Linked DNA regions of Homo sapiens. The protein of the gene in region 2 interacts with the protein of the main gene of each other region in a biochemical or structural test. Each region holds a gene or a part of one and is shown on either strand. Other genes may lie near its edges.

Region 1 (7,986 bases), on a different chromosome or scaffold from region 2:
CTAAAAATACAAAAATTAGCCGGGTGTGGTGGTGCTTGCCTGTAGTCCCAGCTACTTGGGAGGCTGAGGCAGGGGGATCACTTGAATTTGGGAGGCAGAGGTTGCAGTGAGCCGAGACTGCGCTACTGCACGCCAGCCTGGGCAACAGAGCAAGACTCCATTTCAAAAAAAAAAAAAAGAATAGAATGGAAGAGTCGTTTTGTTGAAGAAAAATGAGAAATGATATGCAACTGTTTTGAATGGGAAAACACAACCTACTTAAAGGGGGAGTTATTATTCAGCTCCAGCAAATTGTTAAGAGGGAATAAAAATCAATGTTGACATCTTCTCCCCTTTTCAAAAGCTGAAAATCTGTATTTTAGTGTTAAATATACTCTAAAAATGTTAGCCCAACTTTGTGTTTGTTGGGTTGGGAGCAAGTTAAAGCCAGACTTGGTATCTGTTAATTCAACAGAATCTGGCATTTAATAGGTACTCAATGTTTGAATAATTAGCTGGGTGTGGTGATGCACACACCTGTGGTTCCAGCTACTTGAGAGGCTGAGGTGGGAGGATGGCCTGAGCCCACTGAGGATGCAGTGAGCCCTGACTCCACCACCACACTCCAGCCTGGGCAACAGAGACCCTGTCTCAAAAAAACAAAAGAAAAACATATTTGAATAAAAAGTTTCCCCATTTATTTTTCCTTCCACTAAACTGATTGAAACATCCAGAACAAGTGATGAAAGAGAAAGGCACTAATTAGGTAATCAATTTACCATTAGATTGTAAATTTAATTTAAAATAAAATGTCCCTAAAATCATCTCAGTACTTGGCACACTGACTTAAGATGTGGGGTGGGGGAGCATCCCTTAACACATTCTTTGTTTTCCTGGTAAATACTGGTGGAACAAGACAGCTGAGAATGTATGACATCTGACCATGAACATATGACAGCTGTTTGTGCCAGTCATGTCCAAACCCATGGCTCTCAACTCCAGATCCAAAAACTCTCCCCATGTTTTAGACCTCCCACACCAGCATTTAGGATTTCTTCCTCTATAATCTTGCTGGGTGCTGGTCTTGGCAGGGCCATCTACTGGGGATAGGTGGTTTGGGGTCTCAGTGGTGGGCACCGGCTTGTTCTTGCCTCCTCTGCAGCTCCTCTTGCCGCCTCGCCTGCTGTTCACTCATGCAATCCTTGAACGCCTGCACCTGTGGCTGGCATTGCCGCCAGTCCTGGTGCTGGGCCATGCACTCCTGCACTGCAAAGTGGGAGGCAGCACAGCCAGAGCGGGAGATCAGCTGGTCCAGCGGGTCCTCCTCCTCATCGTCTTTCTTCACCCGTTGGGTCCAGGTATGGCCTTGAGGGACTGAGGTTGACATCCTGGGGATGGGGAGTCTATAGAACATTAACAGGTTAGAGTAGGGATATAATATGTAAGGTTCCTAAATTATAAATAGCACTGACCAGACTGCACCATTTAGCCTGTTTAATGTGTCTGTCTCCCGTGGGAGACTCTAAGCTTGAAGACAGATGCTTGTTTTTTTTTTTTTTTTTTTGAGGGTGTCTTGCTTTGTTGCCCAGGCTCACTGTAGCCTCCATCTTTAGGGATCAAGCAATCCTTCCCCCTCAGTCCCTCCCTGGCCAGAGTAGCTGGGACTACAGGTGTGCATCACCACTCAGCTAATTTTTTTGATTCTTTAATAGAGACAAGGTTTTTCCATGTTGCTCAGCATGGTCTCAAACTCCTGGGCTCAAGTGATCCTCCTGCCTTAGCCACCCAAAATGCTGGGATTACAGGTGTGAGCCAACTGTGCCCGGCTGATGTTCGTCTTGATTTACCTTTGTGCCCCCAGCACTAGGCCTGGCTGAGAGCAGGCCTGAAAAGTGGTTTGAACTGAATGAGATAAACTGTGAGAATGCTTGACATAACATTCAATAAGCTCAGTGGATTTTGCTATTGGAATATGAATTAGGTGAAATGTCATCTTTTTAGATAAGCTATCTCTGATCTACCTAAAAAGAACTAAACTTTCAGCTAGGTACGATGGCTCACACCTGTAATCCTAGCATTATGGGAGGCTGAGGCAGGAAGATCCCTTGAGCCCAGGAATTTGAGACCAGCAGGGGTAATAGCAAGACCTCATCTCTACAAAAAAATTTAAAAATGGCTGGATACGGTGGCTCATGCCTATAATCCCAGCACTTTGGGAGACTGAGGCAGTCGGATCACCTGAGGTCGGGAGATCAAGATCAGCCTGACCAACATGGAGAAACCCGTCTCTACTAAAAATACAAAATTAGCAAGGTGTGGTGGCATATGCCTGTAATGCCAGCTACTCAGGAGGCTGAAGCAGGAGAGCCGAGGTTGAACTCGGGAGGCGGAGGTTGCGGAGAGCCGAGATCACACCATTGCACTCCAGCCTGGGCAATAAGAGCAAAACTCCATCTCAAAAAAAAAGAAAAAAGAAAAAAAATGTAAAAATTAGCTGGGCATAGTGGCACACACTTGTAGTCCCAGGTACTCAAGAGGCTGAAGAGGGAGAATCCTTTGAGCCCAGGAGTTCAAAGGCTGCAGTGAGCTATGATGGTGCCACTGTACTCCAGCTTAGGTGACATAGTGAGACCCTGTTTCAAATAAATAACCTTTCTTCTTTTATCCTACTAGCCTTATTCTATGCTGAAGAACAAAGTTTAAAAAGTGAAAGAGGCTGGGTGCAGTGGCTCACACATGTAATCCCAGCAATTTGGGAGCCCGAGGCAGATGGATCATAAGGTCAGAAGTTCAAGACCAGCCTGGCCGGGATGATGAAACCCCGTCTCTACTAAAAATACAAAAATTAGGCGGGCGTGATGGCAGGCACCTGTAATCCCAGCTACTCGGGAGGCTCAGGCAGGAGAATCGCTTTAACCCAAGGGGCGGAGGTTGTAGTGAGCCAAAGATCGTGCCACTGCACTCCAGCCTGGGTGACAGAGTGAGACTCCATCTCCAAAACAAACAAACAAACAAAGTGAAAGAGTGCCCAAATATGGGTAGGTTTTGACACATGGGAAGGATGGAAAGAGTTCACTGTGGCTGTAGCATACAGTATGCAGAAACCTGGCCTCTGGGTCTATAAGGTGAGATGGCTTTGTAAACTATACAAAAATGTGAGGTGTATTTATTTGCCCAAACTGTCTTGCCCGTCTGCATCAGAACACTCAGCAGAAAGCAGCATACAGAAGGAACTTAAGGTTTGAAGAGAAATGACTTCAGCCTTTGCAAAAATTTCACCATGATGGGCTGTAAAGCAACTAGGACTCCTTATTGCCTTAACTGTGTCTCTCATTCACTCAACAAATGATTAAGTACCTATCATGTACCAGGCACTATGCTAGTGCTGAGGATTCAAGACTGTCTAAGTCAGTTAAGTTCCTGGCTTCATGGAGTTTACAACCTAGACAAGGAAACAGGGCAGTTTACTACACAGTGTACAGATAGCAAAGACTGGGACCACAGTGGAGGGATGCCTAATCCAGACAAGGGCAGGAATAGGCAGGGAAGGCTTCCTAGAGGAAGTGATTTCCAAGCTGAAACTTGACAGATGGAACAGAAGTTAGCCAGAGATGGGAAAACTATTTTTGGTCAATGGAAGAGCAGGTGGTTGAGATAGAATCTGACACATGAGAGCAAAAAAAAAAAAAAGTTCAGTGATGGGAGAATACAGTGTGAGAATAAGACAATATTAAACTGGCGATATAAGTAAGTGATCATCACAAGGCTTTGTAGGACATAGTAGGGAGTTTAAGACTTTTTATTCTGAGGGCAATGGGGAATCACAAGAGGGAGTTAGGCACTTTACACAACTCATTTGCCTTGGAGGCGGTATAACTTAAGCAAGAGGGAGAAAATGGGCTTTGAAACAGACTTGGACCTAGCTTTGTCACTGCCTCATTTGGTGCCCTTGGACACATCATTTAATAACCTCTCTGGAAGCACAGAGATGAAGCCGGGTGCCATGGCTCACGCCTGTAATCCCAACACTGGGAGGCTGAGGCGGGAGGATGGTTTGCGCCCAGCCTGGGCAACACTGTGAGCCGTGATCACGCCACTGCATTCCAGCCTGGGTTACAGCGGGAGACCCTGTCTCAAAAAAAAAAAAAAAGAAAAAAAAAAAGGTAAGGTTTGTAAGGAGGCTGGTATGTCTAAAGAGTTCAATAAATGATAGTTTTCTCTTCCTAAATACACTGTTAACTCTTTAAATAGGGCCAGGAGCAAATAATTTAGAGAAAGAACAGTGGAATAGAAAGTGCCTTGATCCTAAACCAAGAGATCCGTGTTCAAATCCCAGCACTACGCCTTACTATGTAATCTTTTTCATTTTAGTTTTCCCATTAATAATATTTAATTCGCACAATTAGAATGAAGATTAATATAACGAATGAAAAGCGCTTGGGCTACTATAGGACTCAGTAAATGCTGCTGTACTCTCCTCTCACCACCTTTTGGCTTCAGTCTCCTCTGGAGTAAAATGACGACGACCCCTGCTCAGAGATCAGGGTAGGCTAGATGGTTGGCAGCTGGATCGTGGAGGCTGGCCTAAACAAGGAAGTCATGGAAAGGATCTTAAAGCAGAAAAATGCTGGCAGCCACGAGGCCTGAGGCGCCTCAGGCGTATCGAGGACTTTGAACTTTGAGGACGCATGCGCGCGCGCGGCCGCTGATCGCAGCCCCGTTGTGCCCGCAACGCCTCCTGAAGAACGCGGTACGCGATGCTCACCGAACAGGTGGGAGAAGAGGGCCCGAACGCACGCTCCTACGCGGCGGCTTGGGTTTCGCAGGCGGTTGGGGATCCTCTGTACATCCTTTCAGGAACCAGCCCCTCGTGGGGAGCGTGCACACGGAAGGGGCGGGGAATGTGAAAAAGTCACGTTTTCATTGGTGGCCTCTTGGTGTTGAGCCCACCTCTGTCCTCGCCGCACGCTTCTCGGGGACTCACTTCCGGGAAGGGGCGGAAGAGGTGGGCTGGTGGAGGCGGGGTCGAGATGGCGGCGCCTTTGAGGATTCAGAGCGACTGGGCGCAAGCCCTCAGGTGAATCCAGGCCCAGAACAGAGTCAGAGGAGGCGGGTAGTGGATGTTGCTTTGCGTCAAGGAGAGCCATGCCTGGTCCAGGATATCAATAGGGGTTACTTCGTCAATTGTCGAGGGATATGGAGGGAACAGGGTCCGGAAAAAGAAGTATCAAACCCGTATGGTCATTCTCTGAAAAGCTATCCCTAGGCCAAGGGAGCACATGAGCTGTGTGATCCCCGCGTCAGAACTAGTATCAGTGAGTTGGAGAAAGACAGGGATACTGGGAGGCAGGAAGGCTTTTGGCCAAGCAGTCATTTAGCAAATATTGATTAGTCGTCAGTTACTTCCAGAAGTCTCTGTACTCACCACCACTTTGTGTATGTGATGGAACCTTTGTATTCTCCTAGGCCCCTAATGCTATATTAGGCATACTGGACGATACTATTAAGGAAACTAATACTGTGTCCAGGCCCCATACTGGATGCTTGGTGGAGCTCAGATGTATACTCTAAATATAAGTGATGGTTCCTGCTCTTCAAGAAGCTGACATCCAGGCCAGGCGCAGTGGCTCATGCCTGTAATCCCAGCACTTTGGAAAACTGAGATTGGTGGATCAGTTGAGGTCAGAAGTTCGAGACCAGCCTGACCAACATGGTGAAACTCCGTCTCTACTAAAAATACAGAAATTAGTCGGGCTTGGTGGTGGGCGCCTATAATCCCAGCTACTCGGGAGGCTGAGGCAGGAGAATCGGTTGAACCCAGGAGGTGGAGGTTGCAGTGAGCCGAGATTGCACCACTGCACTCCAGCCTGGGTGACAGAGCGATACTCATCTCAAAAAAGAAGAAAAGCTGACGTCTTAATTAGGAATACACAGCAAACTATTCATTCATCTAACATTTATTGATCTTATACTATTCCAGTTATTTCTCTAGGCTTCAGGATGAATATAGCAGTGCTATATTTGGCAACTGCTACTACTAATAAGGGTTTTTCAAATTGAAACAATGGTGAAGATGAATGAAACATAGCCTTCTGCATTTAAGAAATTTACACCTTACTAAATTTATACCTTACTTAATTTAGGTGGGCTAAAATACAGACTAGTTGCTAGTACACAGAATGTGATAAGTAATAAAGAACAATAACATGAAGTGCCACTAGCTACCTATGAGAAAATACAGCACCAGAATCAGAAGGCTTAATTTGCCCAAGATCATGCATCTCGTCAAATGATAGAGGGTTGCTGTCAACCTAGATCTTTCTGTCTTAAATGCATAGACCCTTTCCATTATACCCTAAAAGTGCTAGGGTGAAGAGATCAGGATTTGGATGATTGGGCAGGTGCTAAAATAATAAAAGGAATCTTGTTTGGTTATTGTGAGGGTTAATGATTGTGTATGGAAAGTGCTTAGCACAGGGCTTGGTTTACAATAATCCTGATAAATAATTAAATAACCTTGATTTTTCAAAGTGAGCTCACTGTTGATGGATGAGCATTAATTTAACCAACAGATATCTATTCATTAAATAGTTAATCCACAAATATTTCTTGAACAAATAAAGTTTGTCTGTCTTAGAATGATCTATACTCGATGAGAGGTTGGACTATCTCATGTCTAAGTACTATGACCAAGCTGGAGGTTACATGACCTTCTTTCTTCCCTTGTAACTATGGGATCCTATTCAACTTTGGGTAAGCCTAATTAGGCTTTTGTCTTTCTTCGTAGGAAGGATGAAGGGGAGGCCTGGCTGAGCTGTCATCCCCCAGGTAATACCCATGAATTATATATGCTGTGACTTTAAAGGAGAAGGATTAATACCCTTAAAAGAAAGCTTCCTACTTTCTCCTGGCCCAGCCTCCTTACATAATAGTCTGCAAACATGCTTGACCAGTCTGTACTGTATGGCCAACACCCCAACTCCTCCATTCCAAGGGAAGGCCTTCAGATTGATTTTCCATTTGAAAGCCACAGACTTATTCATGGAGACATTGTTGATGCATCTTAATTAGTCACTTACCCTGTGCTATTGTATTCTAAGCACTTCTGCAGCTTCAACTGGGACTTTCTTGATGATAATTTCTAGATCTACAGCCCCAGCCCTGACTTCTCCATGTTCAAGCAGAGATTGATCAGTTGTTTGCTAGATATTTCTGCTTAAAGGTCTCACTGTCACCTTAAGTTACTGGACTTACTGAAGTCCAAAACCAAGCTAAGTACATTTGTTGTCAAGTGAGTTCTCTTTCCTGATTTTTCTCATTTCTTAAGTTACCATCATTTTTCTAGGCATCAGAGTGAAAAACCTAGTTACTTGACCCTGCCATATCCAGGAAGCTCCCAAGTCTTATCAATTTTTCTTTTGAACAACAGTCTTATATCATTCACAGGATTCTTTTCAAATTGTAACCGAGGTGGTACCATTCTAAAACAAATCAACCTTCCTTCTAAATTCTGTAAGAAAGTTTTGTTTTGCTGATTATCTTTCATTTCAAATGCTGCTGATATATTGTATTTCTATGAGAAATAAAGTTTTGGCCAGGCACAGTGGCTCACACCTGTAATCCTAGCACTTTGGGAAGCTGAGGCAGGAGGATCACTTGAGCTCAGGAGTTCGAGACCAGCCTGGGCAACAAAGTGAGACCCCCTCCCCATCTCTATAAAAAACAAAAAAAATTAGTCAGGCATAGTGGCATGCGCATGTAGTCCCAGCTACTTGGGAGGCTGCAATAGGAGGATCTCTTGAGCCCGGGAGGTTGAGGCTGCAGTGAGTTATGATCGAACCATTGCACTTTTGCCTGGGTGACAGAGTGAGACCCCATCATTAAAAAAAAAAAGACTATTGTTTATATCAGTGGAATAAAGGATGGACTTTATAGTGCTGTGACTTGCCAATCATCTTAAAAATAAGGCCAGACGTGGGGGCTCATACCTGTCATCCACCATTCTGG
Region 2 (7,248 bases):
ACATAACAAGAGTCACTTTTACTCCAGTTCCCAACAAGTTCCTCATTTCCATCTGAGACCACCTCAGCCTGGACCTTATGGTTCATATAGCTATCAGAATTTTGGGCAAAGCCATTCAACAAGTCTCTAGGAAGTTCCAAACTTTCCCACATTTTCCTGTCTTCTTCTGAGCCCTCCAAACTGTTCCAACCTCTGCCTGTTACCCAGTTCCAAAGTTGCTTCCACGTTTTCGGGTATCTTTTCAGCAATGCCCCACTCTACTAGTACCAATTTACCGTATTAGTCTGTTTTCATGCTGCTAAGACATACCCAAGGCTGGCCACAGTGGCTCATGCCTGTAATCCCAGAACTTTGGGAGGCTGAGGCAGGTGAATCACCTTAGGTCAGGAGTTCAAGACCAGCCTGGCCAATGTGGTGAAACCCCATCTCTACTAAAAATACAAAAAAAAATTAGCCAGAGGTGGTGGTGGGCGCCTGTAATCCCAGCTACTTACAGTTCCACAATGGCTAGGGAGGCCTCAGAATCATGGCAGAAGGTAAAAAGCACTTCTTACATGGCAGTGGCAAGAGAGAATGAGGAAGACAGAAAAGCGGAAACCCCTGATAAATCCATCAGATCTCATGAGACTTATTCACTTATTCACAAGAATAGCACGGGAAAAATCGGCCCCCATGATTCAATTACCTCCCACTGGGTCCCTCCCACAATAAGTGGGAATTCTGGGAGATACAATTCAAGTTGAGATTTTGGTAGGGACACAGCCAAACCATATCAATCAGAAAATACAAAACCCATGGGTACAGATCTAAGCACACAAAGATTATATAGTGGCTGCCACTCATGTAAATAACCAAACATATGTCTCTTCCTGCATAAAGCTTTCTATTTTTCATTAAACTCATTCCTCCCACAGTCCAGAGAACTGGATTTTCTAATCTCAAGGTATTGGTATTTCCAATGCTTTCACTTATTTGATGAAACATTTGATTGCACTCTTCATGCAACTATTAGGACCAACTGCAAGAAAGAGGTTAAATTTTTAATCTCCACTTCCAAAAATAATTTAAAAACAGTGTCTCCTACTAAAAGGCCAATTAGAAGAGAGAGCCATAAATTCATATTTATATTTACTCATATATGAATACAAATATGAACTATAAATGTATATTTACTCCTATGTTTACAATGTGTTCTACTGAAAATGTAAAGCAAGTGTCTTAATTTAGGGTAACGTATTCCATTTTAGACAGAACTATAACAAATGTTATATTCTTCAATTAAAAGTGGACCTTTTGAGTTAAACTGAAATACAGTTTAAATATTTTCTGTAAGACATAAGAATAAAAGGGAATCCTACGAGAGCTAGAAAGGCAACCAGCACTAATATCGCATATATTGTGATGCGTAGTAGTGCAGAGTTTGGAGTGAAATCATCTGAGTTCCAGGTGACCCTGGACAAGTGATTGCTCTTCTAGACTAGTGGTTTTCAAAGCATGGTCCCTGGGCTAACGAACAGCATTGACCTCACTTGGTAATTTGGTAGAAATGTAATTGGGGTGGAGAGAAGGGACCTAGGAATCTGTGTTTTAACAAGGTCAGTCCTCCTCACCTCTGATGAATGCTCAAATTTGAGAGTCAGTACTACAGGCTCTTCAATGTTTTCAGCCTTAAAAAAAATGTGCCAGAGGGCATGGGCTCTATATGGTTAATAAAGCAGCATAAAAACGTTACGAAGCACCTATCCCACAAGTGGAAATTCCAAGTTGGCAAATGCCTTAAAGGGCCAAGCGAAACAAACACCATAAAAATTGTAAATGCATATGTCTTTAAGATTTGTTTAAAAGTTACTGAACCTTATTTCATCATTAAGACCGTTCACACCAATGAAGCAGTGTGATATAAATGCATGAGCTATTTTGCTTTCACATTTAACCTTCTTTCTTAGTATTTTGTATCATTTCAGATCCCATCAGATTTATAAGCTGAAAAATGATTTGGGGTGTGGGGAGGAGTGAAGTTGGCAAACCCAAACAAGCAAGCAAAGAATACACTTCCATATGGTCAACCTAGGGTCAAGAATAGCTGTTTAGGTTGGAGTTCTACCTAACATACTGTGTTGACTTTGCCTAGTCAATCCACCTCTTGGCCTCAGTCTTCTCAACAAGATGAGGCTACTAATATTCACTGGACAGGAGTAGTGTTAAGGTATGAAGTAACACCTGTGACAGCACTTTGTAAACTGTAAAACACAATACAAATGGTGTTCATGATGGAATAAAAACATGCTAAACAATTATCTCATTGAAGCTTCACAATCCTGAACCAACAGCTGTTGTCCTCATTATACAAATGAGAATCCTGAAAAGAAATTAAACTTGCCCGGGACCACAAACCTAAAAAGTGGCAAATGAAGAAATTTTAAAGTATAGCAGTAAAAGTAACACTTTGGGAATTAACGGGAGGTTAACTTTCAACAATCCCAGCAAAAGATAACCGTGAAGCACTAAGAACTCCGGCGAGAACCGCACACCAGCAACAACTGCGAGGTGGTGCAGGGTCGGGGGCTGTGCTAACTGACTTAGGGGAGCATTAGGAGGCAGGTGGAGGCTCCAGAACCAAAAAGGCCGGGATGCCTTCAACAAGGAGGTTGAGGGGAGGGATGGACAAGCCTGAGAAGACGGAGGAATGAAGTTTGGGGACGCAAAACCCACTGGGAAACAGAAAGCCCTCCAAATAGGCTAGACTGCTGGATGGGAGGACAGCGGCCCCCGCGACTAAGCGGGCCGGGGCTAGGGGCCTGGGCGTCAGACTAGGACAGACACTATCCCCAGCCCGCCGCAGTGCAAGCCACGCCGCGCGGGCCGCAAAGCCACTGTCCCCGAGCCCCAACAGCGTCTCCAAGGGCAGCGCGCCAGGGTGCCCCGCAACCCCTCACCTGGAGCGCGGTGGAACCTGCGGCAGCGGACGCAGAAACCGGCCGCTGAGAGACCGAAAGCGACCGGAAGTGAAGGGCGGGACCGGAACCGGCTGAAAAACCGGAAGTGGGTGGTTTGAAACGGAAATATGTTGGGGACGGAACAACTGCTTCCTTTGAATCTCTTCGGGTGCTAATCAAATGGCCGCTGTAAGGGATCTCCACAAAGCCACGAAGAAGCCAGGCCTTTCCGAGACTGTAACCGCTGTGCAGATAGCGCCGATCCCTGGGTGGCCGCTCTCTCGTTCTGCGCGTGCGCTCGTTCTGGGCTGGGAGCGGATGGGTGCTGAGGCGTGTGACGTCTCTAGTAGTGTCGTAACTGGGTGTGCTGCCTTTTCCAGGTGTACTGAGGTCTTCGTGAGATTCAGGGCTAGGACTCGTGTGGCTGTGTCATGTTCCGAATGAAGCTTAAAAGGTGATCTTTGAGAACTGAAGACTTGAGACCCCTCCATGGGCCCAGGGGCTGCCAACACTAATAATTTCAGAGACTTAGAATCTGAGGAGAATCTCCAATCTAAGGGGAAACGGAAGAGGGTCAGGAAAGAGAAGGGGCAAGCTTAAGTGACTCAGAATCCAAGAAGCAAGTCTCATAGGAGAGCTGCGATCGAGGTTACCATACAGTATCCAATCGTCTCAACCTTCCCATCCATACTTCCATGCTGTCTTTCCTCTGAATGCAAGGAAAACCGGTTACACAAACGCTGACAAAAGAATGTCAGACTTGAATGGAAATTCGGAGCAGTACCCATCTGGTCCATACAGCGAACTCCCAGTGAGCACCACGGCAATGTAACTAATTCATGTTTCCCTCTTGGCAGTGCGGGAAAGGCAGCAAAGAGCCAAGTTTTGTATCTTAACAGTTCTTTAGTTAAGAGGCACACGCTATTTTGCATTCTTCCCTACTTTTGATAATTTTTGGCTGCACTAGTAATGCATGAGTATCTGCTCATTTAAAAAACTCAAACTTTTTCAGTGAAAAGTATGCCCTTTTCTTCAGAAAGTCTTAATTAAAAAAAAAAAAAAAATCATTGCCCAGACCAACATTTTCAAGCATTTTCTCAAATCGTTTTCTTGGAATAGCTGCATAGTTTTGGGTCTTACATTGAAGTTTGGTGCTCATATGTGGGAGCTAAAAAAAAGTTGACTCCATGGAGATAGAGAGTAAAATTGTGGTTACCAGAGGCTGGGAAGGATAAGGAGGGAGAAGGAGATGAAGAGAAGTTAAAAGGAGCGAAAATATGGTTAGACAGAAGGAATAAGTTGTAGCGTTCCACAGCACAGTAGGGTGACTATAGTAATCAATAATTTATTTTGTATTTCAAAATAGAGGAGAAAGGTTGGGATAGTCTCAACACAAATGATAAATGTTGGCCGGGCACAGTGTGGCTCACACCTGTAATCCCAGCACTTTGGGAGGCCAAGACAGGCAGATGACTAGAGGTCAGGAGTTCAAGACCAGCCTGGCCAACATGGTGAAACCCAGTCTTTACTAAAAATAAAAAAAATTAGCTAGGTGTGGTGGCATGTGCCTTTAACCCTAGCTACTCGGGAGGCTGAGGCATGAGAATCACTTGAGCCTGGGAGGTGGAGGTTGTAGTGAGCCAAGATCATGCCACTGCACTCCATCCTGGGTGATAGAGCAAGACTATCTCAAAAAAAAAAAAAAAAAAAAAGAAAAGAAGAACTTTTGCCTCCTGTTGCTCCCTGGAGCCTCTCTTCTAATGTGTGGAGGATAATATACTTGTCCTTCATTCATGCATCTCTGTAGCAGCTAAAGATGCCTGGGAATTCCTCCATAGATTGTCAGGTCTGAGAGTCTAAATAATATATGGAAACAATTTCACAACATCAGATGACAAACTGTTAATATTACTGTGACCACATTTACTTTGGAAGATAAAAGGACATTCCTGCACCTAGGCCAGAAATCCCCCACTACTCTGCTTTTATCTCCATCTCCCCCAGACTTTTTTCTCCCCTTTTCTCTCTCTGGCCATTTTCTTTCTCTAGCAAGTGTGTTCTCTTGCCCAGCTCAGATCTACTCCCCTCAAAAAGCTTTCCCTCTCTTCCCAGTTGGAAGACAATCCTCTTCAAAAATTTAGTTCCCTCTAGAAGTTTGTCTCTCTCTTCTAATACCTACTCCTTTGCCTTTATCTTGCCTGCAGTAAGAGAGCTGAAAATATTTAGAATCTGCCCCACATGACAGAATACAGGTTCTTAATGAAGCATGCCCAGTTACTGCCCTTCTCTATTCAGCATGCTTTCCCCAAACTACTACTTAAAAACTCCATTCTCTTCAAACCTCAGAACTTCCAATATACTCCTTTGCTCTAGGCAGATGACATTGTCCCATATTTTGGCAATTCTTCAAACCTCTGAATCTACAAACTAAGGTATATTTTCAGTCATCCTCACTCTTGCTTATTTCAGTTGAGGCAGTTCGCTTCTATTTGAAGCCAACCCTTTAACTTGTTCTCCGGCTTCTTCCTTCTAAGGAAGCTTTCTATAAATCCAGGATTCCCTTCTCTTGCTCTTGTATTTTTAACCTCTTTCTACTGGCTCATTCCCATCAATAATAAACATGCCATGGTATCTTGCCATCATAGCCATCACCCTTTCCTTTCACAGATGGATATTCAGAACATTGTTTACAGTTGTCTGAACTTGACATAATCTATAATTGTATACTTCTTGGAAATATTCTTTCTTTAGTGACATTCTCTCCCACTATATTGTAAGCATATTAGTTTTCACACTGCTATAAAGATGCTACCTGAGACTGGGTAATTTCTAAATAAAAGAGGTTTAATTGACTCACAGTTCCACAGGGCTAGGGAGGCCTCAGGAAACTTACAATCATGGAAGAAGGTGAAGAGGAAGCAAGGCATGTCTTACATGGCAGCAGGAGAGAGAGAGAGCGTGCACGCAGGGGAACCTGCCCCTTTTAAACCATCAGATCTCGTGAGAGCTCCTCATTATCATGAGAACAGCATGGAGGAAACCACCCCCATGATCCAATCACCTCCCAGCAAGCCCCTCCCTCAACACGTGGGGATTATAATTTGAGATGAGATTTGGGTGGGGACACAAAGACAAACCATATCAGTAAATTTTGTTAAGGAACAGACAATTTATTCACCTTTCCATTCTCAGAACCTAGCATGATATTGGCTAACATAGATGCTCAATAAATATATGCTGAATGAATGAATAATGAATGTTAAGTAATAAGAGCTTATGATGTAACAGTTGTCCTTTGGTATTGGTAGGGGATTGGTTCTAGGGCCCCCAATAAATAACAAAATCTAAGGCTGCTCCAGTCCCTGATATAAAATAGCATAGTATTTGCATATAACCTATACACATCCTGTCATACACTTTAAATCATCTCTCAATTACTTATAATATCTAATACAATGGAAATCCTATGTAAATAGTTGGTATACTGTATTGCTTTTACTTCCATTATTTTTTATTGTTGTCTTATTATCTTTGGGTTTTTCCCCTAATACTTCAAACCCGAGGTTGGTTGAATCCGTAGTTTTGGAACCTGTGGATCCAGAGGGCCAGCTGTACATATTACGCTTGTAACAATACATATCAATGAATGATTACAATTTGTATATAACTCTGGAGGTACAGGAAAGGTCTGAAATGCACACTAAAATCGTGATAGATCATAGCTCTATAGGATGTATTCAGTAAATATTTGTTAGGTGAATTAATGAAATTATCTGTGGCATCACAGAACAGGCAATTTCCATCTTGTTTATATTTTTATGTACATCTGAATTTTTTACAGTTTTACATTACTTTTATTTCTTTTTTATATGAGAAGTTCATAAAGGCATTCTTTTAAAAAATATTGAAATAACACAGATACGTTCATAACTCTGCTAACTTTTTGTAGTGCCTATCATTGCTTTTCTAGACTTTATACACACACATACACACATATGTATAGTTTATGTTATTTTTTTTTTATCTTGCTCCGTTACTCAGGCTGGAGTGCAACTGCACCATCATGGCTCACTGCAGCCTTGACGTGCTGGGCTCAGGTGATCCACATCAGCATTTCGAGTAGCTTAAACTACAGGTACGCGCCAACATATCCAGCTAATTTTGTGTGTGTGTGTGTTTTCTAGGGCAGAGTTTTGCCATGTTGCCCACGCTGGTCTCGAACTCTTGAACTCAAACAATTCACCCATCTTGGCCTCTCAAAGTGCTGGGAATTACAGGTGTAAGCCACCATGCCTTTTATGAGACTTTTATG

Evidence for each region. Proteins that work in one complex are often made in the same cells at the same time.
Region 1: the proteins of UBLCP1 (region 2) and PAAF1 form a complex in vitro, tested with the Homo sapiens proteins (one study listed by BioGRID).

What each region holds. Positions count from the first base shown.
Region 1 is NC_000011.10:73,872,013-73,879,998, forward strand, and holds the start of PAAF1 (proteasomal ATPase-associated factor 1), read left to right. Parts: upstream 1-4,986; 5' UTR 4,987-5,009; coding exon 5,010-5,056; intron 5,057-6,766; coding exon 6,767-6,807; intron 6,808-7,986. Other genes in the region: COA4 (cytochrome c oxidase assembly factor 4 homolog, mitochondrial), read right to left, coding at 1,103-1,393. UniProt on the Homo sapiens protein: Inhibits proteasome 26S assembly and proteolytic activity by impairing the association of the 19S regulatory complex with the 20S core.
Region 2 is NC_000005.10:159,259,049-159,266,296, reverse strand, and holds the start of UBLCP1 (ubiquitin-like domain-containing CTD phosphatase 1), read right to left. Parts: upstream 3,008-7,248; 5' UTR 2,937-3,007; intron 1-2,936. UniProt on the Homo sapiens protein: Dephosphorylates 26S nuclear proteasomes, thereby decreasing their proteolytic activity. Recruited to the 19S regulatory particle of the 26S proteasome through its interaction with 19S component PSMD2/RPN1.